4 linked regions of the Homo sapiens genome follow. The protein of the gene in region 2 purifies or fractionates together with the protein of the main gene of each other region. This does not show direct contact. Each region holds a gene or a part of one and is shown on either strand. Other genes may lie near its edges.

Region 1 (7,307 bases), on a different chromosome or scaffold from region 2:
CTCAAAAAAAAAAAAAGAAAAGAAAATTTAAGTTCACACGTGTGACTCGCCCATGTCTACTGCACAGTGCTGAATCAGAGAAAAAAACAACAGGCAAAACATCAAAGATGACCCTGGGTGTTCACGGGAACGTGCAGGCCCTGTGACAGCCCTGCCCCCTCAGGTCCCTTCCCCTGGGCCTGGATGAGCTAAACCAACGTACCCCACACTCTGCCACCTGGGCTCTCAGGCTCGGGTCCGGAAATGGTCATTCCTGTGATCTCATGCAGCCCTCACCTCACGCATCCCCACGCAGGCGGTGATGACAGCTGAGCCTCTGAGACAAGTAATGAGACAGTCGCCACCCAGCACGCACATCCTCAGGGCAGCTGCTGCTCTAAAAGCTCTGCAGACGTTAACTGATTTGCTTCTCACGCCCACACCATGAAACGGATGCCCATGTTTTACCAATGGCGAAGCTAAGACACAGAGGGGTTAAGGAACTCACCCGAGGTCACACAGCTCCCAAGTGGTAGGTCTGGGACTCAAATCTAGGCAGCCTGGCTCCAGAGCCCAGGTGCTTAACCTCTATTCTATTCAGGCCCTGAGAGAAGAAATGAAGGCCAGGCTTCATTCCACATCACCCAATATAGAACCATCCAGAACAATCTAGAAGTAATAATGGGGTGGCAGGGGGGCAGGGGGTGCTGCCTCAGAGTGATGGAAAGCCTCCAAAACGTCCCAACTCTTCTCAAACAAAGGCTCTGGGGCTTGCCTTTCTGGTATCTTTTTTTTTTTTTTTTTTTTTTTTTTGTACAACTGTGATTGGACAAGACATTTAGAGCATCTTTAACCAAAACCTCCTCCAGGCACAGAAGTGCCATCCACCAGTGCCTGGAAAAACCCAGGCCCAGGAAGGGGTGGGGATCCCAGCAGAAGCAGAGCAGAGATCCCTGGAGGGGTCTAGACTTTTCGGTCCTCCCTCTGCCCCTGTGACAGGCTTTGATCCCACTCCAGGCGCTGGGGTTTCAGGTTTGCAAGCCATCAAAACACCAAACTGAAAAGGCTAAAGGGAAGCTGCTGTAGGCAGGCACCCCTACGGCGGTAAGGAGGGGTTCTGGCAGAAAAGGAACAGGCACAAAGCCCTAAGGTACAGCCATCTGGGGCTACGGTATGGAGCGGGCACAGCCAGCCTCAGCCTCCTGGGTGGCCCAGAGGATGGCACTGTCTGCTCAGCTCAGGGCACATTGAGGCCGAAGTGCTGACTATGGGAACTCAGACAGTGCCTGACTTGCAGCAAACAGAGAAATGTACGTTGTAGAAAAACCTACATTAAAAGAGATTAAAACGGTCTTCAGCTCAATAAGAAAAAGTAACATTGGGAGGTGGAGGCAGGAGCATCACTTGAGGCCAAGAGTTTGAGACCAGCCTGGGCAACACAGACCCTGACTCTACAAGACAATTTTAAAAATTATTAGCCAGATGTGGTGACACATGCCTGAGTCCCAGCTACTCAAGAGGCTGAGGTGGGAGGATTGCTTGAGCTTAGGAATTTGAAGTTGCAGTGAGCTACGATCGCGTCACTACACTCCAGTCTGGGTGACAGACCAATATTCTGAGGAAGGAAGGAAGGAAGGAAGGGAGGAAGGGAGGAAGGGAGGGACAGAGGGAAGGAGGGAAGGGAGGGAGGAAGGGAGGGGAGGCCAGGCATGGTGGCTCACACCTGAAATGCCAGCACTTTGGGAGGTGAGACGGGAAGATCACTCGAGGCCAGGAGTTTACAGCCAGCCTGGGCAACATAGTGAGACCCCATTTTTACAAAAAGAAAAAAGAAAAAGAGGAACAAACCAAAAGTAAAATGAATAAAGGATATGTACAGAATGAACAAAATGCAAATGACCTCTCAAAAATGTTTTAATATCAACTCTCACTAATAGTCAAAGTGAATCCAATAATGAAATAGCTAGTGATCAACTAGTAATCAAAGTCAAACAAAGTAAAACAACGAGAGTCATTTAGTCTTTTTTTTTTTTTTCTTACGTATCAGATGAAGAAGGGGTGCCGGGGAAGTGGGGCAGGGAACTCCAGGCTGTCTCTATGCCTGAAAATCAAATGGCCTTTCTGGAGGGCAGGGTGCCAGAGTGCCGCAAACGTCCTAAAAATGTGCCGACCCCAGAGTCTGACCATTTTCTTCTGAAAATTTGTCCAAAAGCAATAACGAGACAAGCGTACAAGGCGGCACGTAATAAACAGCATTCCCTTACACAGGATACCCTGCCGCCTTTCAGAATAATGCCTGATATTTCACCTGTGCTTATGACACGCTAGGCACTGTTCTAAGCACACCGCGTTGGGGGTCTCAATCCTCAGCACTACCAAGCGGCAGAGCTTTGTTATGACCCACCTCAGGTAAGGAAACAGAGGTACAGAAAATCTCACCTCTCCCCACAGGATCTCTTCTGATTCTCAGCTCCTGGAGGGCTCCAAGGGGGGCGCATCTCAAAGTGCTGCATGACAGAGGCAGCCTCAGAACAGATCTCAGGGACCCCAGCTCAGGTGCTCACTTGACAGACAAGACCCCCGGCCAGGGAGCCAAGCCTGGCCTGTTCCAGATACTCACGCCAGGGTCACCCCTAGCTGCATAGACAACCAGAATGTGACTCTCAGAAGACGCACCCAGAGCAGACTTGCCCCAGCTCTCACAGCCAGTTAGTGGCAGAGCAGGGACGGGAACCCAGGTATCCTGACTCCCAGCCTAGGAGCTGCCAAATACGCAAATGAACACGGGAGCCTCCTTTTGTGAATCTCCGGCTCCCCTTCTCCCAGCAAAGCATTTTCCACAACAATCCCACGTTTGCTGCGAAAGCCTAGTAACAGCAAATCCAGCAAAGAGTCGTTAATAGAAAAAAGACCAGAAGGATGCACATCCGACTGCTCACCACAGATCCTCCCAGGAGAGGGGAGGCCGGGCAGCCACCTTCCTACTTCTACATTTGAATGGCTTGTAACAAGCATGTATTTACTTTCATCCCTTAAACACATTAAAATGAAATTTAAATTAAATACATATTTGGGCACGGACGTGGTGGCTCATGCCTGTAATCCCAGCACCTTGGGAGGCCGAGGTGGAAAAATTGCTTGAGTCCAGGAGTTCAAGACCAGGCCAAACAACATAGCAAGACCCCATCTCTACAAAGAATGAAAAAATTAGCTGGGTGTGCTGGTGCATATTTGCAGTCTCTGCTACCTGGGAGACTGAGGTGGAAGATCGCTTGAGCCCAAGATTTTGAGGCTACAGTGAGCTAGGACTGCACCACTGCACTGCAGCCTGGACAACAGAGGGAGACCCTGTCTCCAAAAATATATATACACACACATATACATACATATAATACATACATACATATATATGTTTCTTGAGCAAGCATCTGTCTATTGTACGCTACATCCGTGCTACCCATGGGAGACAGACGCCTCAGAGAGCCACCATTCAATTCAGTTGGGGATTGAAGACGTCCAGAAGAAAATTATAGTGGGGAGCAGAAGAAAATTATAGTAGGGAGCAGGAGGCCTAATTCACCCTAAAATTATATTCTAAAGGCTTCCAAGAGTTAAACTCTGGTCCATTTGACTCCCATAAAGTTTCCTGTAGAAGCAGCTTTTAAGGGCTGATGTGGTGTGGCCAACAACACTTATTCAGCCCATACATGCAAGGCAAACCACAGAGACCTGGAGTTGGAGAACCAGAGAAAATCCCTGCTTCCTCCCCTCACTGCGTGGCTTCAGGAAAGTTACTTAATCTAGGTCCTAGGCTGTCTCACTTGTGAAATGGAAATACTTGCAAATCCAAAAAAGACCCTCCTCTGGGAAAATAAACTATGAGATGCAAAGTGTTGCAAAGCCTCATTCCAACCCCCAGCAGTGAGCCTGGCAGAGGGAAGAACATTCACGGGTGGAACATGCACCACCCAATCTCTGCGCCCTCAAAGCACGTGGCTGGGCTCACCCCCCTTCCCTACCTCAACTCTGCGCTCCAAAATAAGCTCCCTTACCACTTGGCCTGCAATGGTTTAAGTCAGCTAGGGGTCAGGAGGAAAGCATCAGATTAAACTAATTTCCAGTTACCTGCATATTAAAAAGAAACTAACACAACAGGTGGATGTTTAGGCAATGCCACACACGGACATGGGAGTTCTTACGGGGGTGTCTGTCTCCCCCCAGCCTTGGCTCTCCCAGGCTACACCTGCTTTCCAAGAAGCGTACCTCGTTCCCTCCACTTCTGGGCCAGGGACGCACTGACAGCTGGTAGGGGGCTCACAAGCACAAACGAGCGGTGTGGATGCTGGCGTGGCTCAAGCCTTCTCAAAGGCTTAAACGCTTGTGACGCCCATCTTTCGCAGAATGACGCACCAACTCCTGCGGTTTCTAGGAACACGGCAGGGTGGAAATAAATACTGGAGAAAGCATGAAATACTCCTTCACCAGGGTCCTGCCCACCTCACCCACCCATCTCCTACAACTCAACACCCGAGCTGCAGAGTCCAACTTGCCGTTCCGAGAGCCACACTATGTTCTCCTGCCTCCGTTATCTTCATCATCCTGTTTCCTCTATGTGGGAATCCTCCGGACCCCCAGGCCTGGCACACGTTTGAGGAAAGAAATAAATGATACAGGAAGATTGCCAGGTGGCATCATAGGGACAAGGACTGCTTCATCTGTGGGGTACCACTGCTGGGGAGAGCCAGAGCTGAGACCCTGGATGGAGCAGGGTACCAGGGGTTCCCACGAGGCCATGCAGCCTGAGATCAGGCTGGACAGGTCTTCCTGTTCTGGCTTCTGACCCGGAAGAAAGAAGTCGTGATGAGGTTTCCCAAGTCTCTGACCTTTGCCCTGCCCTGGTCTTCTGAAAATCTAGGTCTCCTTCTGGACTCCCAGTGCCTCTCTGGCACCTCCTACAGGCTGAGTCGTTCTCTCCAGGTGCACCAAGCCCAGACCTTCTGGCCCCTTCGCTCCCTGTCTCTCCTTTGATTGTCTGCTTTTCACTGTGCTAGATGCAACTGGGCCGCACAGTAGGAGCTAAATGAATGTATCTGGAACAAATGAAGCTTTCCCTGGCTACTAGCACCCACATGGTTATGCTCTTTTTCAGAATTGCTAGAACTCTTGCGAGCAAAGTCCTGCATAAGCAACCAGGCCCCCATGAGACACTCAGTCCCTAAACCAACGAATTGCCAGAGGGGCCTGGGCTGGCTCCAGATGCATGTCCCCGGCACCCATCCCAGACCCCCCCAGTCCTCATCTTTGAAGGGAACCTCAGCAGTGTGTGGTGCAGCAGGGCCCACGGCGGAATGCAGGGCCCGGCCAGGGAGTGCCCACCCAGGAACAGTAAGGAAAGCTCAAGAGAGCACCCTGGCACAAACATGGGGACCATCATGCCAGTCCTCCAGGATCAAGTCACAGGACGAACAGAAACAGACACAAACACTAAAACCCCAGGTGTGCCTAAGGGCTGAGGGCTGTGGGATGCCAGGGCGTATGCCGTTTTGTTTTGTTTTGTTTTTGTTTTTTTTTGAGACGGAGTCTTGCTCTGTTGCCCAGGCTGGAGTGCAGTGGTGCGATCTCAGCTCACTGCAAGCTCTGCCTCCCAGATTCACACCATTCTCCTGCCTCAGCCTCCCGAGTAGCTGGGACTACAGGTGCCCGCCACCACGCCCGGCTAATTTTTCGTATTTTTAGTAGAGACGGGGGTTTCACCATGTTAACCAGGATGGTCTCGATCTCCTGACCTCGTGATCCGCCCGCCTTGGTCTCCCAAAATGTTGGGATTACAGGCGTGAGCCACTGTACCCGGCCACATGCACCGTCTTACTCTCCCTCTGAGCTGCCACCCAACTGCAGTCACAGCTGTGGCCCCTTCTCTGTCTAGCTGAGGCTTGACCCAAACAAGAAACCCCCACATCTCTTTACCTTAGTCCCTTTAGGATGTCACCAAGCCCACAGCCCAGGGCAGGCAATCTGTGAACTGAATGAAAGTGAGTGGGGTAAGGGTGACAGTGAGAACGCTCTGCTGGCCAGGCCAGGCCGGCTGGAATGCTCGAAGTAACTGTTTAAAAAAAAAAAAAAAAAAAAAAAAAGCCCTAGTGGGAAAACGATGGAGAAACCTGAGTAAGTCACCCAGCTGACAAAGCCCAGCTCCGGCACACATAATAGTAGCCATATGGCACACACACCTAATAGTCAGGTCCACTTCCACTTCCAGGCGGGAGCCCCCCCCCCCCATCTGGGAACTGCCAGCAGGGATCCCAGGCCCTCCCCAAGCCCCTGCTCCTCCCCTGTGCCGGGCCCTCACCTGCACACAACGACTGGGACCAGCAGGTCCTGGAAAGATCCCGGGCTCCTTTGGGGCTCCTGGCTAGCTTGGTACAACATCCTGCGCTCCACGTGCCCAGTGTCCCCATTTGGACTGAGGCCCTCGTTCTCCTGCATCCCTCTTTCTAGGACTCAGCCAGGAAACCCAAGCTGTCAGGGAGCGCTCACTGCAGGTGAGTGCCAAGCCGGAAGCGGGCTCCTGTTGAAGGCCTATACTCTCCCTGGCTGTATCCGCTTGGCTCCCTCCCTTCTCTGAGCCTCAGTTTCCCCACTAGTGAGGTGAAGGTGGCTCAGAGGCTCTGCACATAGTGAGCCCTCCAGCTCTCCCTCCCAGCTGAAGGCTGTACTTCTTCCACTCCCTAAGGCCAAGTAATGGGCAGGTTTTCTCTTTCCTTGGCCTCTGGTGGGAAAGGAACTTTTCAAAATGGTCTCCCTCTCCTCAAATCCTGTCCTGAAACACAGGAAAGCCAAACATCCCCTGCTTCCTCCTGTCCTGGACACGGGGTCAGAAGTGACTGTGAGTGGCAGAGACTACAGGAGGCCCAAGTGCCCACTGCACTTCCTCAGAGCCAGATGGATCCTGACCGCAGGTCCCACGTCACCTTCAGAGCTGGGACAAACAAACCCTTCACCGAAGTCTAAACAGAGTGAGGGAGGCTTTGTTATACACTCGGAACTGCCGCCCCTTTCCACCGAGAGGCTTAGCCCCAGGAAACACAGGACCCGGCTCCCAGCTGACACTGTGTTTATGTAACAGCCTAGGTCTGTTCCGCCCTGGGGCTGGGGGTGGAGGGCTGGGTCTCAGTCCAGCCTCAGACTGTGCTCGGAAACGCCCAGGGAGTCTGCGCCTCTCCCTCCTCGCAGAAAGAAGGTGGGGACACCGCTTCGCAGGACAGAAGCAATATGGTTTGGCAGATGGAGAGGAGTTCTATCGCAGGAAGGATATAGGGCAGAAACTG
Region 2 (7,557 bases):
TACAGGTGTCTGCCACCACACCTGGCTAATTTTTGTATTTTAGTAGAGACAGAGTTTCACCATGTTGGCCAGGCTGGTCTCGAACTCCCGACCTCAGGTGATCCACCTACCTCAGCCTCCCTAAGTGCTAGGATTACAGGCATGAGCCACTGCATCCAGCCAAGTCCCCATCTTTCTTACTCTTGGTTATAAGGGGGTGCTCTGGCAGCATCTACATCACACCAACTTACTTTTCAGGCCATAGGCCTGGCAGTTTCCTTCTCAAGCAGGAGAGGGAAACCAGAGGCAACGCTGACAAGCCACTTCCCAGCACCCAGAGCCAACATGGGCTACACTGTTTTGTTTTTTTTTGGTTTGTTTTTTTTTTTGCGGAAGGGTCTCATTCTGTTGCCCAGGCTGGAGTGCAGTGCAGCAATCTCGGATCACTGCCACCTCCGCCTCCCAGGTTCAAGCAATTCTCCTGCCTCAGCTTCCCGAGTAGCTGGAATTATGGCCGTGCGCCACCAGGACCAGCCAACTTTTGTATTTTTAGTAGAGATGGGGTTTCGCCATGTTAGCCAGGCTGGTCTTGAACTCCTGACCTCAGGTGATTCTCCCGCCTCCTCGGCCTCCCAAAGTGCTGGGATTACAGGCATAAGCCACCATGTCTGGCCAAAACATGGGCTACTCTTATTCGTTTTTCCTTTTAATGAAAAGCACTCGCTGGGTGCAGTGGCTTAAGCCTGTAATCCCAGCACTTTGGGAGGCCAAGGAGGGCAGATCACCTAAGGTCAGGAGTTTGTGACCAGCCAGGCTAACATGGTGAAACCCTGTCTCTACTAAAAATAGAAAAATTGCCGGGTGTGGTGGCTCATGCTTGTAATCCCAGCACTTTGGGAGGCCGAGGCAGGCGGACCACGAGGTCAGGAGTTCGAGACCAGCCTGGCCAACATATTGAAACCCCATCTCTACTAAAAATACAAAAATTAGGCTGGGTGCGGTGGCTCACGCCTGTAATCCCAGCACTTTGGGAGGCCGAGGTGGGCAGATCACGAGGTCAGGAGATTGAGACCATCCTGGCTAACACAGTGAAACCCCGTCTCTACTAAAAAATACAAAAAATTAGCTGGGCATGGTGGCGGGGGCCTGTAGCCCCAGCTACTGGGGAGGCCGAGGGAGGAGAATGGCGTGAACCCAGGAGGCACAGCTTGCAGTGAGCTGATCGCACCACTGCACTCCAGCCTGGGCCACAGAGCAAGACTCCATTTCAAAAAAAAAAAAAAAAAAAAAGCCAGGCATGGTGGTGGTGCATGCCTGTAATCCCAGCTACTGGGGAATCTGAGGCAGGAGAATTGCTTGAACCTGGGAGACGGAGGTTGCAGTGAGCTGAGATCGCACCATTGCACTCCAGCCTGGGCAATAAGAGTAAAACTCCATTTCAAAAAATACAAAATACGAAAATTAGCCAGGCCTGGTGGCACGTGCCTGTAGTGCCAGCTACTCAGGAGGCTGAGGCAGGAGAATCGTTTGAGCCTGGAAGCGGAGGTGGCAGTGAGCCGAGATCGCATCACTGCACTCCAGCCTGGGCGACAGAATGAGATTCTGTCTCCAAAAAAGAAAGAAAGAAAGAAAGAAAGCAAAAGCACTTGTCAGACGAGAGCTCTGACTCTGACTCCATGGATCATGTGCACCAGAGGCCCAGGCAGCCCCTGAAAGAGAGGGAGGTGCCCTACAGAGCACTTAGCTTTGCGGTCACCGGAGCCTGCCCTCACCAGCCAGGTGACACCAAGTGTTACTAGACCTCTCTGAATACCACCCAAAAGCTGAGAAACAGAGGCCTCTCAGAATTCGCATTACACATGGAATCAGAATTCTGGGCAGCGTGAGGTCATTCTTCACTCACTGTTCAATTCCAATCTCTACCAGGTGTTTGCTGAAGAAAACAAACTGGTTTGAGTGTGTCTCACGAGTCTGTTTCCAACAAGCTTTCCAGAACCCACATAGGAAGCCGAAATGCCCTGGCTGACAGTCTCTTCATCAACATATCCAAAGACAGTATTCAAATTCCCTGATGTGGTAGAGTGTCTGTTCATGTCCCCCTCCCACAATGGCTGAGTCCCAGACCTGGACAGTGACCTCACCACCACCCGTGGTGCGCCCTGGCCCTATTTCAACCCTACTTCCTATGGTGTTCTCATAGCACCGTGGAGAATTAAAGAGGCCACTAAGTAAGGGCACTCTAAATAAACAAAGCACTATAACGGATCTTAACCAGCAGTGGACACACAGCTTCTATAACTAGTCTCCCACTGGGGAGCCTCATTAAGTTAGCAGCTGGGATCCCAACAAGCCCAGGGTGAAAAGTTCTGCAGGGGATGACTGCCAGTTCAGATCCACTCTCACTGTGGCTCTATTTCCACCGTTTCCCTGGATTTCCATTCACAGAGCTCCCTGACATAGGACACTAGAAGGGCAAACGCAGTGTCACCTGCCACTATTACTCAATTACTTGATGACCACGGTGATAATCTGGCACTAAACTGGCTGTGGCCAAAGGCTAGAGAGCCAGAACCTACTTCCAGCAAGCTCCTCCTTGCCCTGTGTCCCCACTTGAAGAGACTGCTAGTGACCACACCTTGGACTTCAATCCACAAGCCAATCCATTCTTTCCAGGAGACAAGGACGCGACTGACAGTACTCTCAACTGGAGAGAAGCGCGGTCTTCCACCCTCCCTGGAGGACACGGTGCTACCCTATTAGCGCATCAGAGGACCCTCCTGAACGCCAAACTGGGAGAAGAGGATGACACACACCCTCTCCTCCAAACAGAGCGAAGACAAAACCTGGGAGAAGGGAAGGCAAACAGTCCCGTTTCATGGCAACATCAAATGAGATCACAGTCCTCATCCCCATAGACTTGGTTAATGGGCGTGCCCCCAACCTATCTTCAAATCTCAGGGTCTCGGCGACGCCCTGGACTCTGGCCCTAAACCCTCCCCCATTACTCGTCCACCTGGGACCAACGAAAACTCGGACATGCCCCTCCGCCAACCCCTCAGACCCCCGCCTACCTGCTCCCCAAATCGAGGCCCGCGGGACACCTGGACTCGGCAGCCGGGGTCCCGCTCTGGGTCCCAGCCCCGCCCCTGACTGCGCTGGGTAGGTGGTCGCTGCGGGACCCGGACCGGCGGAATCACACCCAGAGCCCCCAAGCCCACGGCAGGGATGTCACCCGGGGTGGCGAGGCTCTCAAGCCCGGGTTCAGGCTCTCAGGGGAGCTGGCAGAACCAGGAGCGACCACACTCACTCGCGGTCCCGCAGCCCCGCCGACACCCAGGCGCGTGACTCCCTGAGCCGTACCACCACCCAACACTGCGGTGGGGGTGCGGGAGCCGTCCGAGCGCGTCCTGCACCGCGAGGAGAGCCGGGCCTCCCTAGCTCTCGCAAGCCCAGGAACACAGTCCGAGTCCTACAACTCCGAGGTCTGACTGGGAAGCAGGGGCCGCTGCCCGACAATTACCCTTTTCCACCGCCCCTATTCCGGTGCCCCCCTCTGGGAAGTTCCGAATGGTTCAGACCGCACCAGCTGGGGATGCTGGGGGAAACCATTTCATTAAGCGCGGGAGTATGCTGAAACTTAAAAATCATTTTAAAAAGAGATTTGAGGGTAAATATAGCCAACCTAAGGCTTCCTGTCCACATAAAAGAGAAAAATAAAGAAAAAACGTTATAAGAGGTTGGCAGGCTTTTTTTTTTTGCTTCACCAATGGTTTTTATTAAATTGCTGATGGAACCCGTCCTCTCCCTACATTGAGAGTATGGAAGGTGCGGGAGACGGCCGTCACGTGACGCGGAGAAGGCGCGGCGCCCGTGGGAGGTTGGTTGCAGAACTCGGAACCGCTGTGCGCGCGCATGTGTGGGATTCGGTCTTCCTCCCTCAGTGGGTCTTTTTTAAAAATGTGAAAATCAGTTTTTGAATAATATTCTTTTTTTGAGACAGAGTTTCGCTTTCGCTCTTGTTGCCCAGGCTGGAGTCCAGTGGCGCGACCTCGCCTTACTGCAACCTCCGCTTCCCGGGTTCAAGCGATTCTCCTGCCTCAGCCTCCCGAGTAGCTGGGGACTACAGGCGTCCGCCACCACGCCTGGCTAATTTTTTGTATTTTTGCAGAGACGGGTTTTCACCCTTTTGGCCAGGCTGGTCTTGAACTCCTAACCTCAGGTGATCCACCAGCCTCGGCCTCCCAAAGTGCTGGGATTACAGGCGTGAGCCACCGCGCCCGGCCTGAATAATATTTTTTAAAACTAGAGCGCCCATTACTAAATTTAGCTACTTAGAAGTTAATTGTAAAGCCATTAGTTTGTGATGTAGTGTGGGTCCTTCCAGTGAAGACCGGAGAGAGATGGGAATCAGAGCCTGACCCGCCTGTGCGCGCTGCCCCCTGAGGTGTGGCTGCCCCCTGAGGTGTGGCCGCCCCGGAGCCTTCCGCCGCGGCCGAGGCTATGGTTGCCGCAGAGTCTCCAGAATGTGCTCACCAGGAATAGAATAGAAAAGTGGGTGGTTGTGTTTTTGAAATCAGAAGTCACTTATTTTTTTCTCTTTAAATTTCCATGTTCTGGTCGGGCGCGGTGGCTCACGCCTATAATATCCCAACACTTTGGGAGGCCGAGGTGGGCGGATTACGAGGTAAAGAGATGGAGACCATCCTGGCCAACAGGTGAAACCCCCTCTCTACTAAGAATACAAAAAAAATTAGCTGGGCGTGGTGGCACACGCCTGTAGTCCCAGCTACTCTGGTGGCTGAGGCAGGAGAATTGCTTAAACCCGGGAGGCAGAGGTTGCAGTGAGCTGAGATCGTGCCACTGCACTCCAGCCTGGCACAGAGCGAGACTCCATCTAAAAAAAAAAAAAAAAATCCATGGTCTGTTGAAAACGGGACACGAGAAAAGAACGAAAGTGCAGCTTGTGTTTTCTGCCGTCTTATAGTGGCTTGGTAAAGATTAAGGAATATGGGGTGGCGTTACGAGGTTAGGCATTGCCTTTATGTGTTTAATTATTCTTATCAAGCGAATTCCTCTTGCTGTTGGACAGCGCAAACTTAATTTCTGAGGAGGTAGTAAGTTACAGGGTGATTTTATTTTATTTTATTTTAGAGACGGAGTCTTGCTATGTCTCCCAGGCTGGAGTGCAGTGGCGCGATCTCGGCTCACTGCTACCTCCACCTCCCGGGTTCAAGTTCTTGAAACTAATGTTTGTTAATGAGATTTTTAAGTCAAGAACAAGGTTTTTTTCACCTTGTAACTTTAATTCCAGGAATTACCTTTTTCAGTTTGTTAGTGGAGTTCACCACCTTGCTCAGATTATCCTTATTTCCATGGTGATAGGCTAATGGCGGAAGGTTATTCAACTAGTGTATTTTCAGTAAAAGTCAATGTGCATTTACCACACCTGGGCTCAATTTAGGCCATTAACATCTTTCCCAACACCACTGGCTTCAGCCACCTACCTCTTTTGGAGGTACTTTCTTAAATAAACCTATAAATCTTTAAAAAAAAAATTAACAACTGCCAAATCTTTGCCTCAGTGAATTGTACCAAAGGTTATTTAAATTGGGCTCTCATGGGGTATAAAAACTTTCAAGGTCATGCAACAAAAGGGACATCTTAGAAGTCGGAAAATGTGCCCATTCTCATGGGAAAGATAATTGAAACTCAGCAGTAATGTTCAGAAAGCACAGATACCAATAATGTTCAACAATTCACAACCAAATGAAATGCAATGCTAATCTCAAAGCTTCTATCCCATAATGGAAATTGTATGAAATGATTCCAGAAGCTCTGGATATGTTACTGCCTGGCATGCATACAATCCAGAATGTGTTTTTTCCACCACTGAAACAGGCTCAATCAGAATTAAGATTTTTTTCCACCACTGAAATAGGCTCAATCAGAATTAAGGTTTTTTGATGCTTTTCTGCCTTCTTACTACTGCTAAACCAAGAGGCTTCATTATAGCTGAGTATCCAAACTGATCAATCACTTCCAAGGCATCAGTTGCCAGGACCATAGAGCCAAGTGGCAGGGAAAAGTCACATCTTATTCAGAAATTTGTTTTAGAGTTTTTTATATGTACCCTTAGCCACAGGGGCTCTGATGTAGCTGTAGGATACAGCTGGGCTTTATCTTTCAGTCAAACCACATGTCAATGACTCTTAGTTTCCAGTTTCAGGAAGAAGGGGTGTATTTCATTTGTAAGCATTTCAATTTAATATTTTTAATCACATCTCATATTTTCAAGTTACTATAATTGATTCCCTGTTATAAAAATAATGATCTAAGTTTTTGTTTCTTCCAGCAACTGAGAAAACATTCCGTTTTTAGATGTTTTGAACAGTTTAGGAGTCTGGCCAGCTGCTGAAAGGCAGCAAGCAATGAGTAACATTTCAGAAGGTGAGATAAATGCACAATTTCTTTTTTTTTTTTTTTTGAGACGGAGTCTCACTCTGTCGCTAGGTTGGAGTACAGTGGCGTGATCTTCGCTCACTGCAACCTCCCCCTCCCGGGTTCAAGCACTTCTCCTGCCTCAGCCTCCCGAGTAACTGGGACTACAGGCGCATGCCACCAGGCTCAGCTAATTTTTGTATTTTTAGTAGAGACGGGTTTCACCATGTTGGTCAGGCTGGTCTCGAACTGCTGACCTTGTGATCTGCCCTCCCAAAGTGCTGGGATAACAGGCGTGAGCCACTGCACCCAGCCCATGCACAATTTCTTTCTTTCTCTTTTTTTTTTTTTTTTTCTTTTTTGAGACGGAGTCTTGCTCTGTTGCCCAGGCTGGAGTGCAGTGGCGCCATGTCCGCTCACTGAAAGCTCTGCCCCCAGGGTTCATGCCATTCTCCTGCCTCAGTCTCCTGAGTAGCTGGGACTACAGGCGTCTGCCACCAGGCCCAGCTAATTTTTTGTATCTTTAGTAGAGACGGGGTTTCACTGTGTTAGCCAGGATGCTCTCGATCTGCCTGCCTCGGCCTCCCAAAGTGCTGGGATTACAGGCGTGAGCCACTGCGCCCAGCCTAGCCCATGCACAGTTTCTAAGTTCAGGTTTTAGGTAATTAGACAATCAACTCTGCACATAAGGCATCCAGTCAGTTGCGAGGTATGAGTTATTAGTGGTTCAATAAAGGCCATTAGGATTAATTTAATATTTCTTACCATAGCAATTTCTGTAAGCTTTTAAAAATTAACCTCTCTCCACTAATTAGAATTCATCTGCTATGCCTTTTGTGTTTTAATCTACTACTAGGTGCCTATTAAATACCATGTGTTGACATTTTCGTCTAACAATCAACTATAGAGCCAGCCTATGGATTCAGACTTATTAAATGCTTTTTGCAATTAAAGTTCTCTGATTTCAGCCTTTGATGTTAGGAAAGGATACAGATAGGATTTTCTTTGTTCACTATCATTAAGTAATTCAGTTACTTAAAAAGATAGCCATCACATTTTCTTATTCACAGATACCTGATTTACCTAGTCATTTATTTTCTCTGGCCCCTTTGCAACTGCTCAGACTTAGGTCCAAATAAC
Region 3 (6,836 bases), on a different chromosome or scaffold from region 2:
CATGAATACTATGCAGCCATAAAAAATGATGAGTTCATGTCCTTTGTAGGGACATGGATGAAATTGGAAATCATCATTCTCAGTAAACTATCACAAGAACAAAAAACCAAATACCGCATATTCTCACTCATAGGTGGGAATTGAACAATGAGAACACATGAACACAGGAAGGGGAACATCACACTCTGGAGACTGTTGTGGGGTGGGGGCAGGGGGGAGGGATAGCATTGGGAGATATACCTAATGCTAGATGACGAGTTAGTGGGTGCAGTGCACCAGCATAGCATATGTATACATATGTAACTAACCTGCACATTGTGCACATGTACCCTAAAACTTAAAGTATAATAATAATAATAATAATAATAAAGAAAAAAAAGAAGAATAGATAAGTAGATGGAGGAACAAATGCAAAAAAGTATACTTTAAAAGAAATGCATTGGCTAATTCATACATAATGTTATCGTGTGAATTATTATGTTGTTTTCAAACTAATTCTGCACTGTGTAAAAAGTTATATATTAGGTTGACGCAAGAGTAGCGGTTTTCGCCATTGAAAGGGAGAGATAGCACCATACAGCCACCTTAGTCTACCTTTTACAATGATCCCAAAAACTCATGGAAACATTTTCAAATGCATAAATTGAAGTTTGCTGCTATTATTAATAGGGACATTTACAAATTCATAAACAATTTAAAAATTGTTTTTAAATTGTTAAAAGAAGGATTGGTGTGTTTCGAAATATTAAAAATTAGTGACTAAAATGACACAATATGTACATGAGAATATACATACCTATAGATTATTAGTCATTTCAGCACCCAGAACTCTGCATAACGTATGGAATATATATTTGCATATTTTACAATCATTGTCAATGGAAAGGTGAATTGAAGGTAAACTGCCCCAAATATTTCACAGGCTTCCTAATAGAAAGAATAATAGATTATATCCATAACATGTTTCAATTTTCAAAGAAAATGGATAACCTATAATGAAATCTTTCCATCATAGACTTTAATCAGTCACCACCATGAGCAAATACTAGTAGCTAAGTAAGCAGCCCTTAAAAGACCTGGAGAGAAACAGAGGACATTTGCATAAAGAAAACCTGGAAAACCTGTCCAAGAACAGGAGAACGTAGAGACATTGATACTGTGAACATAGATGAAAACTGGATTTAGTCAAGAAGACATTTCAGCCTCTATGTGGGATGATACGTGGTAACAGGATTTTAATTTTGAAAGACAAGGTCCTCAGAGCTTGATGCTGTTACATGAAGACAGATCTTGGGGAAGTGGTGACAAAATGCCCTTGTGGTTTAGCTCAGTGCAGAGCACACTGCAAATCTTCTTTACAGAAAGGTGCCAAAACAGAAGAGTATATTTTCCTTTTGGGTCTTTCAAATCTAGTATTTGTAAATCATGGTGAATAGTAATTTGAATACTCAGAATCTATTTATCACTACATTCAAACAGTCCATTAAGCTCCACCTCTAGTAGAGGAATGTGTCTACATACATTATTTGGAATTCCTCTGTAGAGAAGTTTTGTCCTTTCCCCCACCCCCACTTATTTATTTATAAGTCACTGCTTCTCTGCCCTCTTACGAACAGAGCTTGAAAATATTTGCGTTTATCAAAATCCTGTTTGAGTAGGCAGAATAACGGCCCACCAAAGATGTCCATGTCCTATTCCCCAGAACTTGTAAATACTGATGCTACATGACAAAAGAGACTTTGCAGATATAATTATATCACAGTATTTAATTAGGGAGTTTATCCTGTATTATCTAGTTTGGCCCAACTTAATCAAATGAGTCCTTAACAGCAGAGAATTTTCTCTGGATGAAAGTGGAAAACAGATGGAGTAGAAATGAAAATCAGAGAGATTCCAATTGTAAGAAGAATTCAATGCATCATTGCTGGCTCTCAGATACAGGAACCTACAAACCTGAGAGGGCCTTTAGGGGTTTATTAACAGCCAGCCAAAAGCAGGTAGCTCAGTCCTATAATTGCAAGGAACTGAATCCTGCCAAAAGCCTAAATGAGCTTAGAGGTAAATTCTTCCTAGAGCCTTGTAATGAAAACCCAGCCATCAAAACTTTATGAAATCCAGAGCAAGAAACCAGCAGAGCCAACCTGAATCTCTGACCTACAGAATTGTTTTTGAACACAAAATTGTGTTATTTCAAGTAGCTAAATTTGTGACAACTTGCTTCAGTAGCAAGAGAAAATTAACACATATTTATACACATATATCTGTAATTATTTTCCATATCAACCTATGTGTATATTGAACTTAATATGAGTTCATACCGATATCTCAGACTCTTAATCCAGCACCACAGAGTTCATTCTGCCCTTGCTTATTTGTAATTTATTTTCCTGACGGTGAGAAACTTTTAATTATCTTCCATTATTTGTTTATCTCTAATAACACAAATAGTTTAAGAATTATTCACCTATAAGCTTGTGATATTCAAACTTACCAACTAGAGTATTATATTTATGGACAGCTGTTTTTGTCTTTAGTTTTACAAACTGAAAACCTCTTTTGCAAAGTTACTTAAGTCATTTCCTTTTTTTGTCCACATCACCTGTAGTAAAATTTCCACATCACATGTAGTAAAATTTCCTATATATTACGATACAGTTAGGCTTATCTGTCAGAGGCTACATTATATAATACGATTCCCTAACACTCTGGATCATATTTTTTATTTGCATTCATTAAAGTTTACTCTCTACAACGTACGATTCTATGAATTTTGACAAGTGCATAGAATGTTGTATCCACCACTCCAGTACCTCATAGAAAAGTTTACCACACTAAAAATCCTCCTGTGTATCCCCATTATAGTTGACCACGCTCTCTTAACCTGTAGCAACCACTGATATGTTTTCCATCCCTATAGTTTTGCCTTTTATCAAATGTCATACAAATGGAATTATACAATAACTACAAAATTTTTTTGCCTGGCGTCTTTCAGTTAGTAAGGCACATTTAAGTTTTATCCAGGGCTTTTGTGTAAGTAAATAGCTTGTTTCTTTTCTTTTTTTAAAAAATAATATTCCATTGCATGGATATATCACAGTTTATTTATTTATTACTTGAAGAATATACAATTTTGGTAATTATTAATAAAACTGCTCTAAACGTTTGTTTACAGAAGTTTGAGAGAATACAGGTTTTTGATGTCCTTGGATGAATATCTAGAAATAGGATTGATGACTTGTATGGTAAGTCTATGCATATTTCTAAGAAATTGCCAAGCTGTTTCCCAAAATGTCTGTAGCATATTTCATTCCTGGGAGCAACAAATGAGAGTTTCTGTTACTATATATTTTAACACCATTTAAGTTTGCTTTTAAATGCTGTTGACTCGATGTTCAACATTGAGGAACCGATAAACTGTTTTTTAAAGTGGCTGCACCATTAGACATTCCTATCAGCAATAAATGAGGATTCCAATTTGTCCACTTCTTTCTCAACACTTGTTTTTATTTTTTATTTTAGCCATCTTAATAGGAGATGCCTCAAATATATTTCTGTCAAAGCCTTCATTTTACATATTTAGTTCACTCAACTTATGGAGTAGAATGAAAAAAACTGTAAAGCCAATTTTCATTACTAAACCAACTAGCCACATACATTTGCTTTCTCCAAAAATAGAATATCTTACTCACTTTCAATTCTAATATATGTTTTCATCTTCATGAAAACCATGCATTTATTTTTCAGCTCAATTTCTAAGTTGTACAGGTAGGAAAGCAAACAGAGAGGAGACAAAAAATAAGGAGCCTCATCATAACATTGTAGTCTGAAAGAAATGTCACCATTACTTTCAGCACTTGTTACTGATACTCTCTTTGCTATGATCTTATGGGATTCTCCTGCAGAAGTGACCAAACATTCTTTCATGGTAGTCTGAAAATGGAAGAAGCAAAGTAATGAAAATATGACAGCATTCCCACCACGTCCCAGAATAGATCTAAAGATGAAGACTAACAACAAGCCACATCCTCAAAGAAATATTTATCAAGACAAGGAAAAAACAGAACTATACTATCCTGACTTGAATAAGCAAGGTTTCATATGAAAATCATTATTTCAAATATTCCTTTTATTTGGCACTGCAGAGGTTTTTACATATCAAAATGGTTAAGATTTGACATGAATGAGGTGTATGTAGGTTTGCGGGGGTGGGGGTGGAGTTCTTTTTGTTTTGTTTTTAATAATAAAAGCAACTGTTAACCGAGCTGTGGGGTGGGGGCAAAAAGAGCCAGAAGGCGGCGCACACCTCAGGACTATTCTTGTTTTTTTAGAACCATTCTTATTCTGGGGTTTCTTCACCTACCCAAGTCTCGCCTGAAGCCAGGTACAGCTCTATTCCACTACATGACCCTCTGCCCAGGAAGTTGGAATCTTCACCTAGCAACACAGTTCAGATCGAGATTGACAGGACCATGAGCCAATCACAAAGCTAGATTTGCTTTCCAGTCTAACAGTGGCCGTTGTGCTGGAGACAGTGAGGAGAAGAAAGGGGCGGGACAAGGGCAAAGGCGTTAGAAGTCACCACCGACCCAGCCCCTCAACAGCAAGTTGGTTCTTCAGCATTAAGATCCAGGTGTCAGCCTATGTCTTTATATTGTCAAGATGTCTCTTTCTAAGAAGTTGACTTTAGACAAACTGGATGTTAGAGGGAAGCGAGTCATCATGAGAGTAGACTTCAATGTTCCCATGAAGAAGAACCAGATTACAAACAACCAGAGGATCAAGGCTTCCATCCCAAGCATCAAGTACTGCCTGGACAATGGAGCCAAGGCAGTAGTTCTTATGAGTCATCTAGGTCGGCCTGATGGTGTTCCCATGCCTGACAAATATTCCTTAGCACCTGTTGCTGTTGAGCTCAAATCCTTGCTGGGCAAGGATGTTCTGTTCCTGAAGGACTGTGTAGGCGCAGAAGTGGAGAAAGCCTGTGCCAACCCAGCTCCTGGTTCAGTCATCCTGCTGGAGAACCTGCGCTTTCATGTGGAGGAAGAAGGGAAGGGCCAAGATCCCTCTGGAAAGAAGATTAAAGCTGAGCCAGATAAAATAGAAGCCTTCCGAGCATCACTTTCCAAGCTAGGGGACGTCTATGTCAATGATGCTTTTGGCACTGCACACCGCGCTCATAGTTCCATGGTGGGAGTGAATCTGCCCCATAAAGCATCCGGATTCTTGATGAAGAAGGAACTAGATTACTTTGCTAAAGCCTTGGAAAACCCAGTGAGACCCTTTCTGGCTATACTTGGTGGAGCCAAAGTGGCAGACAAGATCCAACTTATCAAAAATATGCTGGACAAAGTCAATGAGATGATTATTGGTGGTGGAATGGCTTATACCTTCCTTAAGGTACTCAACAACATGGAGATTGGTGCTTCCCTGTTTGATGAAGAGGGAGCCAAGATCGTTAAAGATATCATGGCCAAAGCACAAAAGAATGGTGTAAGGATTACTTTTCCTGTTGATTTTGTTACTGGGGACAAGTTTGACGAGAACGCTCAGGTTGGAAAAGCCACTGTAGCATCTGGCATATCTCCTGGCTGGATGGGTTTGGACTGTGGTCCTGAGAGCAACAAGAATCATGCTCAAGTTGTGGCTCAAGCAAGGCTAATTGTTTGGAATGGGCCGTTAGGAGTATTTGAATGGGATGCCTTTGCTAAGGGAACCAAAGCCCTCATGGATGAAATTGTGAAAGCCACTTCCAAGGGCTGCATCACTGTTATAGGGGGTGGAGACACTGCTACTTGCTGTGCCAAATGGAACACTGAAGATAAAGTCAGCCATGTCAGCACTGGAGGCGGTGCCAGTCTAGAGCTTCTGGAAGGTAAAATCCTTCCTGGAGTAGAGGCCCTCAGCAACATGTAGTTAATATAGTGTTACTTCCTTCTGTTTTCTGTCCATGGCCCTTAAGTCAGCTTAATGCTTTTACATCTCGATGTGACTTTTGTTAAAATCTACTCCTAGATCAAGACCTATGTAATGGACAAGCAGCAGGCCATCAGGAACTCTTAATATCAGCACAGCAATTCATTTTAGTTTGGTCACGCATTTGCCTGTTCAAGTTCTCATTTGAACTTCACCATTGTGCTATCTAGGGAGGACATATTCTTAAGTTGCCTATTAAAGAAAGTGAGCTGAAGAAACTGAATCTTTTTATTTTAGTCCAACTTTGCTATTGTTTCATAATTTGAAACCCAAAAGATAAAACTTAATTTGTTGGGAAAGGGTGGAATGAAAGTTGACAAACAAACAATAAATATGCCCAAATAAACTGAGAAAAATAATTACATATAAAGAACTCATGGGTACCATTAAAGTTCTGCTAAGGGGAAATGTTATACTAAATAGGACCAAAAAAAAGAGAAATGAAAGACACTTATTAAACCCAAGGAATTTTTAAAAAGAAAAGAAATTAAACTCAAGGTAAGAATTATGTTTGTGTGCATATCAATGCACAAGATTACACACAAATGCCAGCTAGAAAAAGAGCTACAAGTTAAACCCAAGTTGTAAATAAGTAATTGTTTTATTTTTAAGGCAGGCATTATTTAATAAATAGATAATATAACTGGTAAGTTCTAAAACTTGGTTTTTGAGATAAATAAAATATATATACATAGCTGGTTTAATAATGGGAAAATAGAGATAAAAATTCTCTATTAGAAAACAGAAGATAAAATGATAAGAAATGTAGAAAAAACAAAAACACTTATTGGAAAATATTTTGCTTTATTCTGTAGACAGAGGTAGTTTAGGGCAATGCTATTAACAAGAATAGTAATTAAGAG
Region 4 (7,396 bases), on a different chromosome or scaffold from region 2:
AATCCTTCATATTCAGCGTTTATTTGCATTGAAATGCCTCCACTCATTATGCATTGATGTTCACTCAACTGTGAACCCTGCTTGTTGCATAGCTCTAGGCATTGGTTTTGCAGGGCCTGATCACTCTGGATTCCCAGGGAAAACCCACCCGATTCTTGTTGCGGTGATGCAAACATGTAGTATTCTCTTTTTCTGTTCAACCTCTGGAGAAAGGGGAAAGGACTGCTAATGTCCACTTCTTTGGCAGGGGGCATGTCGGGGGAGTCTCTTTCTGGCTTCCTGCAGACCCTACTATTAATGAAGCCATACTGGGTTCACTATGCAGCTAATAGTTTACTAAGCAGTAGCACCTTGAATTCTATGCTGGAGTTGTCTGGCTCTCTTAATACCAAAATAAAACTAGAAGACAGGAGGTGAAGAGCCTAGGGAGGGAGGAAAAAAGTTTATTTGAACAACAGCCTGAGCATAGAGGTGTCTGGATTGATTTTTTTCTCCTGGATAGACTGTGTGCATGCCGAAAGAAAAACATCAGGAGCTGTGACAGATCAGGTTATGCAACCATTTTGTGTGCTGAGATAAGACAGTTTACAAGAACTTCACAAGTTTACAAGAACCCACCTCAGCATCCAAAATATGCAACTGGAGCCTCATTAGTAAATGGCAGAATAACATGGAAACTTCTCCTTTTCATGGTTAGACTGTGAAAGTCTGTCTTTAGTTCATATGGTGGTGGTGGTATAAGGTCTCTCTTTTATTTGTGGAGACACCAGGGAGGAAGTGTGGGAGAAACTTGGGGGTAGATGGCCTTCAGTTGCTCAGTGATGAATAGCACAATTTAAAGCCTAGTGGAAATTCTTAGCAGCCTGAGTGCAAACTTGCCCAGGAATAGCCTTTTAGGACTTTACAACACTTTGCTCTGACTGTGTAACTCTGGGACAGTGTGGCCTAAAGGAAGTTTCACATTTCTGAGCTGGTTTTTTGTTGCAGTCTAAATATCTGTACCCACTTTTGAATAGTTGGGTTCAATTGCTGTCAATTTGTATAGTGCCTAAAGGTTTCAGCTTTTTTGTTTTTGTTTTTGTTTTTGTTTTTCCAGGCAGGACTCAGTCTCATTTATATAAAGTCAGAGTAGGGGGATATATGAAACTGGAGACTTTCTCTGACGGGGTTTAGGAAGCCTTGGCTTTATTGCTTCTCGGCCTTTTGGCTAAGATCAAATGTAGGAAGCCTTGGCTTTGCAGTTAGATGTTTGGAATAGAGTAAGGGTTTTTGTTTGTTTCTTGCTATAGCTAATCTGGAAAAAGAAAACTAGGTATCCCCTCTTTTAAGTCAGAAGTTTACATAAATTCATTTTTTCCTAGGAAGTAAGTGTGAAAAATTTAGACTTCAAAGCCCATTTATGTGGATTTCATTTAATTTAGTAAATTTTAAAAATGCACCTAGCCAAGATCAAGACAGCATGGGAGTTATTCTCAAAAAGTCAGCTCAAAAAGACGAGTAAACAGCAAGCATCTATTAAACTAAAGAAATCAGTGAACTTCAGTTTGTTAGGCCTGGGGAGGGACAGAAAATCCAATGATGAAGGAATTTTTTTTCCTAGAGATTCAAGTAGCCAAGCATACATCTGCTGCTCTGAGCTTCTGTGAATGTGTTCGGAGGGAGGTGATCCATACCACAGGCACCAGCAGCAACAAGGCATCCAGCATGTGGAGGGCTTTTCTACTTCTCTCATGCAGAGAAGAAAGAATACAGCCTCAGTGCCATCCTCTGACACAAATGAACTTGTGTAAATGTCCATTTATGTGTATGTACATAATGTGGCTTAATTCATAGGGTGACAACTGATAACCTGATCCATTTTCAGACTTCATTTGTGACAATGGAGAGTCCAGAGAGACAACCTAGTAAGTGTACCCTAGCTTGAGGTCAGAAAAATGGATGTGTATATAGTGAGTGGGACTGTGGAACAGTGGGGTGGTGGGGAGTTCCTGAGAATCCATAGAGGAATGTCACAGGAAGGGAGTGAGATAGTGGCATAAGGAGAAAAAAAAACATCAGTACAGAAGATTTAAGAGTCTAGAGCTGTACTGTCTATTATGGTAGCCACTAGCCACTTGTGGTTATGAAAATCTCAATTATATGAAATTAAGGATTCAGTTATTCAGTCACTGTTGACCATATTTCAAGTGCTCAAATAGCTACATGTGGCTAGCGACTTCTGCATTGGACAGCACAGATATAGAACATTTCCATCGCTGCAAAAAGTTCTGTTGGATAGTGCTTGTCTGGAGCAGGGGTTGGCAAACTTTCTGTAAAGGGTCAGATAGCAAATATTTTAGGCTTTACACAGGCCATGCAGTCCTTGTTTCAACTGTTCAACTCTGCTGTTGTAGTAAAAATGCATCTATAGATGATAATGTAAATGAATGAGCTTGGCTAGAGCCAATAAAACTATTTTTTTGTTTGTATTTTAAGACAGTTTCATTCTTGTTGCCCAGGCTGGAGTGCAGTGGCAAGATTTCGGCTCATTGCAACCTCCGCCTCCCGGGTTCAAGCGATTCTCCTGCCTCAGCCTCTCAAGTAGCTGGGATTACAAGCATGTACCACCACGCCCGGCTACTTTTGTATTTTTACGGGGTTTCTCCATGTTGGTCAGCCTGGTCTCGAATTCCCGACCTCACGTGATCCGCCCGCCTCAGCCTCCCAAAGTGCTGAGATTACAGGCGTGAGCCACCGCACCTGGCCTGAAATTTGAATTTCATATCATTTTCACATCATGAAATAGTATTTTGATTATTTAACTGTTTAAAAATGTAAAAATCATTCTAGCTCATGGGACATGTTAAAACAGGTGGTGAGCCTGATTTGACCTGTGAGATGCAGTTTGCCAACCCTTGGTCTAGAGGAACAGTAAATCAAAACTTAAGGTTTGTTTACTATGTGGGACATCTGATCACTTGAAAATTTTTAGTGGTTCTTCGAGGCTTGAGAACTTTCTCTGGCTGAAACTTGGAGTTCACTGCAGGAATGTTTACCTTCCTTTGTTCCCTATTTTTGCAGTCTAGTTCTCTCCAATGGCAGAGTCATGCTCCTTCAGTGGGAGATGACTACTGGAATGTTTAATCCTTAATTAAATCATGCCTAAGTCTAAAACACTAAACCCTTCTCTGTCTCCACCTGCTAAGTAGCTGAATCCTCACTTGTAACTTTGTCTAGTATACATTGGAAGTTCGCTGTCACCTGGGATCAGTTCTGCCCCTGTACTGTCTAACAACATGACTATTGGTGGACCAAAGAGAGATTATTTTTCCTAGACCAGAAAGGTTTACTTTTATCTTTAGCTATCAACCCCTCCCCCCACCTTTTTATGACCTCACTTTATCTCCAAGTCACATGCTATCTTGAGTGGCACTGTTGAAGGATGCCCCAGGATAAGGGAAAAAAGGTAAGATAAATGCAAAGCAAAATAAAATGGTCAAGGACACAGGAAGGACATAATAGGGGCTAGGATGTGGGAGGCCTTGAGAATTAAGGTAAATTTGTTTGCTATGGAATGAGATGGAAGTCTTAGGAGGTCGTCATGAATAGATGTTTCACAAGTGAAAGCTGGGTGGGAGGGCTCACTTAAACATGGACTGAATGCCTACTGTGCACTAGATAGTATGCTGGGCAATCAGAGATGAATAGCAGATAAGGAAAAATAAAAGCTACAATCCTTAGAATGGTGGGTTGGAGAAGGACAGAATAAGGTTTTTAGATAATAAAAGGCAACAAGATTTAGTGATAGAGGATGGTGAGGGGAAAAGGGATATATAGAGGGATTAGAAATGGGTGCTTTGGGGAGAAAAGCAAGTGGTAATCCTAAAAGAGAAAGCTGGAGAACAAAGGATAAAAAATTAGGAGGTTGGTACTTTGCTGAACTAAGGGGTAAAATGGATGAAACCATCAGGAGCTGTGATTGCTCTTCTGTTCTTTGTGGATGCCCATGTTCAGATCCCCTACGGCCCTTTCCTCTCTGTGGTTGAAGGACAACTACAGAAGAGGTGTCTTCTGTGTTATAAGGTGCAATACTCCCCCCAGAGACCTCTCTATGAGGAAGTCTGATCCAGCGAGAGTTCTACTGCCCACGAGGGGACAGCGTTAGGTTCGAGCTCTCTAATCCAGGTTTCTTTGAGTTTATCTTGGTTCTAACCGGCACGCCGGGTTTTCCAGCATTCCCTGAGCTAAGACTCCCTAATCTGGGCTCCGGGTGAGCGCGCATTCCGAGACCCAGGATTTCGCTCCTTCATCCAGGTTCCGGGTTTCCCCTGCGCTCACCGGCTCCAGACTCCACACAAGCGCGGAATCCGGATCCGAGGGCCTGGCAGTCCAGTGTCCGCGTCTTCCGGGTGACTCTGGTTGTCCCGGATCGCGGCGGCGGCGGCGGTGGCGGCGGCTGAGGGACCCGCGGCCCCGGACACAGCGGCACCGGCCGGGCGGGGCGGAGAGGCGCGGGGAGGGGGCAGAGAGCCAGAGCCGGAGCCGGAGCCGGAGCCGGGGTGGGGTGGGGGGGAGGGGCCGCGGGAACGGATGGCGGCCTGGGCCCCGTAGCAGCGGCGGCTCTACGGCCCGGGGCCCCGGGCGGGCGGAGGTGGCGGCTCCCGGGACCGGCCGCGCGGTGAGTCCGGAGCTTTGTGTGGAGCCGGGACTGGGGGAGGAAAGAGGCGGCGGCACCGATGGGGCGCGGGGCTGAGGGGATCTGATGGGGGCCGGGGGCGGCGGCGCTGCCTGACGGAGGAAGTGGGGGTTGGGGGGGCTGGGGCGGAGCGAGGGGAAGGTGTGTAGGGGGGGTCGTTGCGTGGGTGGGGGAGGGGGCGTCGAGGGGCGCGGGGTGAAGTTCAAAGCGTGGCCACGGCCGGTTCAGGCTGAGGGTAGGGGTGCCCGGGAGGGGATTAGGGTCTGGCTAGGTTATGGGAGCAGGCCAGAGAGTTTCTGAGGCGAGTCTGGGTATGTTGAGGGCGCTCGGGGCGACTGGGGCCAGTCAGGGAGTTGGCGGGGGAGGGGGGGCGGGGGCGGTGGTGGTTGTTCAGAGCATAGGGTCGGAAGCAGGACGTGTGCGTGACCTAGGAGTGGGGAGCAAGGTGGCTGGGATCCTGCAGTAAGTAGGTTGTGGGTGTGTGCCCCTAACAGTCTTCAGGTCACATTTACTCCTGTCCTTTTCTTCAAGATGGAGGGATCCCTGGGCCTGGACCTCAACTGCTATCCTTGTACCCCCGGGAGGGTTTGTGACCCTATCCTGTTTGGAAAACCCATGCTGCCCTCTTTTCCCTTTATGTGTAATTACGGTTGGATCATCTCTGTGCTTTGCTCAGATTCTCCTTCCTCCCTCTGGGGTTGAGGAGGAGGAGACACATCTGACCAATTAATGTGTGTTTGTGAAACAGGCAGCAGCAAACAGTCATTTCAGCTTCGAGGAATTAGGCTCACACAGGGTGGAGAGATCAGAGCCCTTCAGGGGGAATATTTCTGAACAAATCACGGATGATTAAATTCTCTAAGAAACAGCTCCCTACCTAAATGAGAGTGAGAAAGATAGGGAAGAAAGCCTGTCTGTTTCCAGCCATGTGTCCAGAGCCTAAGGGGTTGAGGAGAGTCCCCAAGCCCCTACAGGCCTCCCTTTTCTGTATTAGGCTTTGCTCTGCAGCCTTGAGTTAATTTCACCCCTGCTGCTTTGTCTTGGGGGAGGGAGTGCTGGTTTAGGCTGTTGTGAGGAGATGACTGTTCTGCTGCCACACACAATAGTCGTGTCATTTTATCGGGAGCGCTACCCCAGGGCTGAGAACTGCTGCAGCAGAGATAAACCGGTCCCTCTCACCCGCCTATTGTGTACACAGTGAAGGTCATAGGTTCAAGTCTTGTCTGAGAGCTTTGGATATGCTCCATCTCCCAGGCTCCTCAGTGCCATTTTCTTCCTTTTCCAGACTGGGGCTTGCCATTGGAGGAGGCCAGAGAGAAAGGCTCTTCTTTTTGAGTGAGGAACAATGCAGAGCTCATTGGCACACATTTTTCAGAAGAATAAGGGATGCCAGCCATGTTGTGCCTGCCTCTTTGGCTAGCCTGTACTAAGTTGTGAAGGAATAGTGTCTGGTAGACTCAACTACGATGTTTGTTTCAGACCCTTAAGGAAGAAGACTTCAAGGGAAGGTTCTACTCTTAGTTGAATCATCATATTTAATTCTTTTATATGAATGGAACACTCATGCAGTGATTTTTGTTTGTTTCCGAATACCACTAAAAACCTGTGCAGTGTTAAGATGGGGAGTCAAGCCCAGGTGTGGTGGCTCATGCTTGTAATCTTGGCACTTTGGGAGAATGAAGCCAGAGGATGGCTGGAGCCCAGGAGTTTAAGACCAGCCTGGGCAACAAAGCAAGACCCTGTTTCTTTAAAAATAAAAAATAAAAAAGTCAAGAACCAAGTACCTTTTTAATGGTGGCTTCCTGGTCAATAATAATAGCACAACAAAAAAGCCACAGAATTTGCCTATCTGGGCAAGGGCTGTGGGAACAAACCTTTCAATATTTATTTTAACTCTAATGAAAGGACATGAGTTGCTCATTGTGCAAAAGTCTATATCTGCCTCTGTATTAAGAAATTTGCCAAAGAAATAAACATTTTTGAAAAAATGTATGGGTCTTAGGGATTATTAGTGAGAGAAGGATGAGAACAAACTAGAAGGAATCCTATTGTACATATCTGATAGAAGTGCTCAAATAATATTTATGTACTATTAGTTGTGTAAAAAATTATTTGGGACCAGGCATGGTGCTCACACCTGTAATCCCAGCACTTTGGGAGGCTGAGGCAGGAGGATCACTTGAGCCTAGGAGTTTGAGAGTGGCCTGGGCAACATAGTGAGAACTCATCTCTACAAAAATTTAAAAAAATACAGCTAGCTGGGCATAGTGGCACATGCCAGTGGTCCCAGCTACTCAGGAGGCTGAGGTGGGAAGATCGCTTGAGTTCAGGAGTTCGAGACCAGCTTGGGCAACATGGCAAAACCCCATCTCAACAAAAAATATAAAAAATGTTAGCTGGGTGTAGTGGCATACGCCTGTGGTCCCAGCTTCTTGGGAGGCTGAGGTAGAAAGATCTCGTTGAGCCCAGGAGGTTGAGGCTGCAGTGAGCTGTGATTGCACCGCTGTACTCCAGCCTGGGTGATAGAGCAGGACCTTGTCTTTAAAAAAAAAAAAAAAAAATTTGGGGCCTGGAAAAGAGGTTTCCATTTAGGACATTAAATACAACTTTTCTTTAAAAAGAGATTAGAAGTAAAACTCATTGTGAGTGGGGAATTGTATATAATGTGCTGTGTACACAATAGCCAATCATTTCCCATAGGATAGTGTTGAATAAGAACTT

Evidence for each region.
Region 1: the proteins of FLCN (region 2) and AGAP3 purify together in Homo sapiens (affinity purification with mass spectrometry; 2 studies listed by BioGRID and IntAct, with this or other methods). This does not show direct contact.
Region 3: the proteins of FLCN (region 2) and PGK2 purify together in Homo sapiens (affinity purification with mass spectrometry; 2 studies listed by BioGRID and IntAct, with this or other methods). This does not show direct contact.
Region 4: the proteins of FLCN (region 2) and ZNF609 purify together in Homo sapiens (affinity purification with mass spectrometry; 2 studies listed by BioGRID and IntAct, with this or other methods). This does not show direct contact.

What each region holds. Positions count from the first base shown.
Region 1 is NC_000007.14:151,089,187-151,096,493, reverse strand, and holds part of AGAP3 (arf-GAP with GTPase, ANK repeat and PH domain-containing protein 3), read right to left. Parts: exon of another isoform or gene 6,329-7,307; intron 1-6,328. UniProt on the Homo sapiens protein: GTPase-activating protein for the ADP ribosylation factor family. GTPase which may be involved in the degradation of expanded polyglutamine proteins through the ubiquitin-proteasome pathway.
Region 2 is NC_000017.11:17,233,862-17,241,418, forward strand, and holds the start of FLCN (folliculin), read right to left. Parts: upstream 3,308-7,557; 5' UTR 3,051-3,307; intron 2,823-3,050; exon of another isoform or gene 2,615-2,822; intron 1-2,614. UniProt on the Homo sapiens protein: Multi-functional protein, involved in both the cellular response to amino acid availability and in the regulation of glycolysis.
Region 3 is NC_000006.12:49,785,011-49,791,846, reverse strand, and holds PGK2 (phosphoglycerate kinase 2), read left to right. Parts: upstream 1-4,561; 5' UTR 4,562-4,659; coding exon 4,660-5,913; 3' UTR 5,914-6,187; downstream 6,188-6,836. UniProt on the Homo sapiens protein: Essential for sperm motility and male fertility. Not required for the completion of spermatogenesis.
Region 4 is NC_000015.10:64,456,182-64,463,577, forward strand, and holds the start of ZNF609 (zinc finger protein 609), read left to right. Parts: upstream 1-4,396; 5' UTR 4,397-4,657; intron 4,658-4,842; exon of another isoform or gene 4,843-4,986; intron 4,987-7,396. UniProt on the Homo sapiens protein: Transcription factor, which activates RAG1, and possibly RAG2, transcription. Through the regulation of RAG1/2 expression, may regulate thymocyte maturation.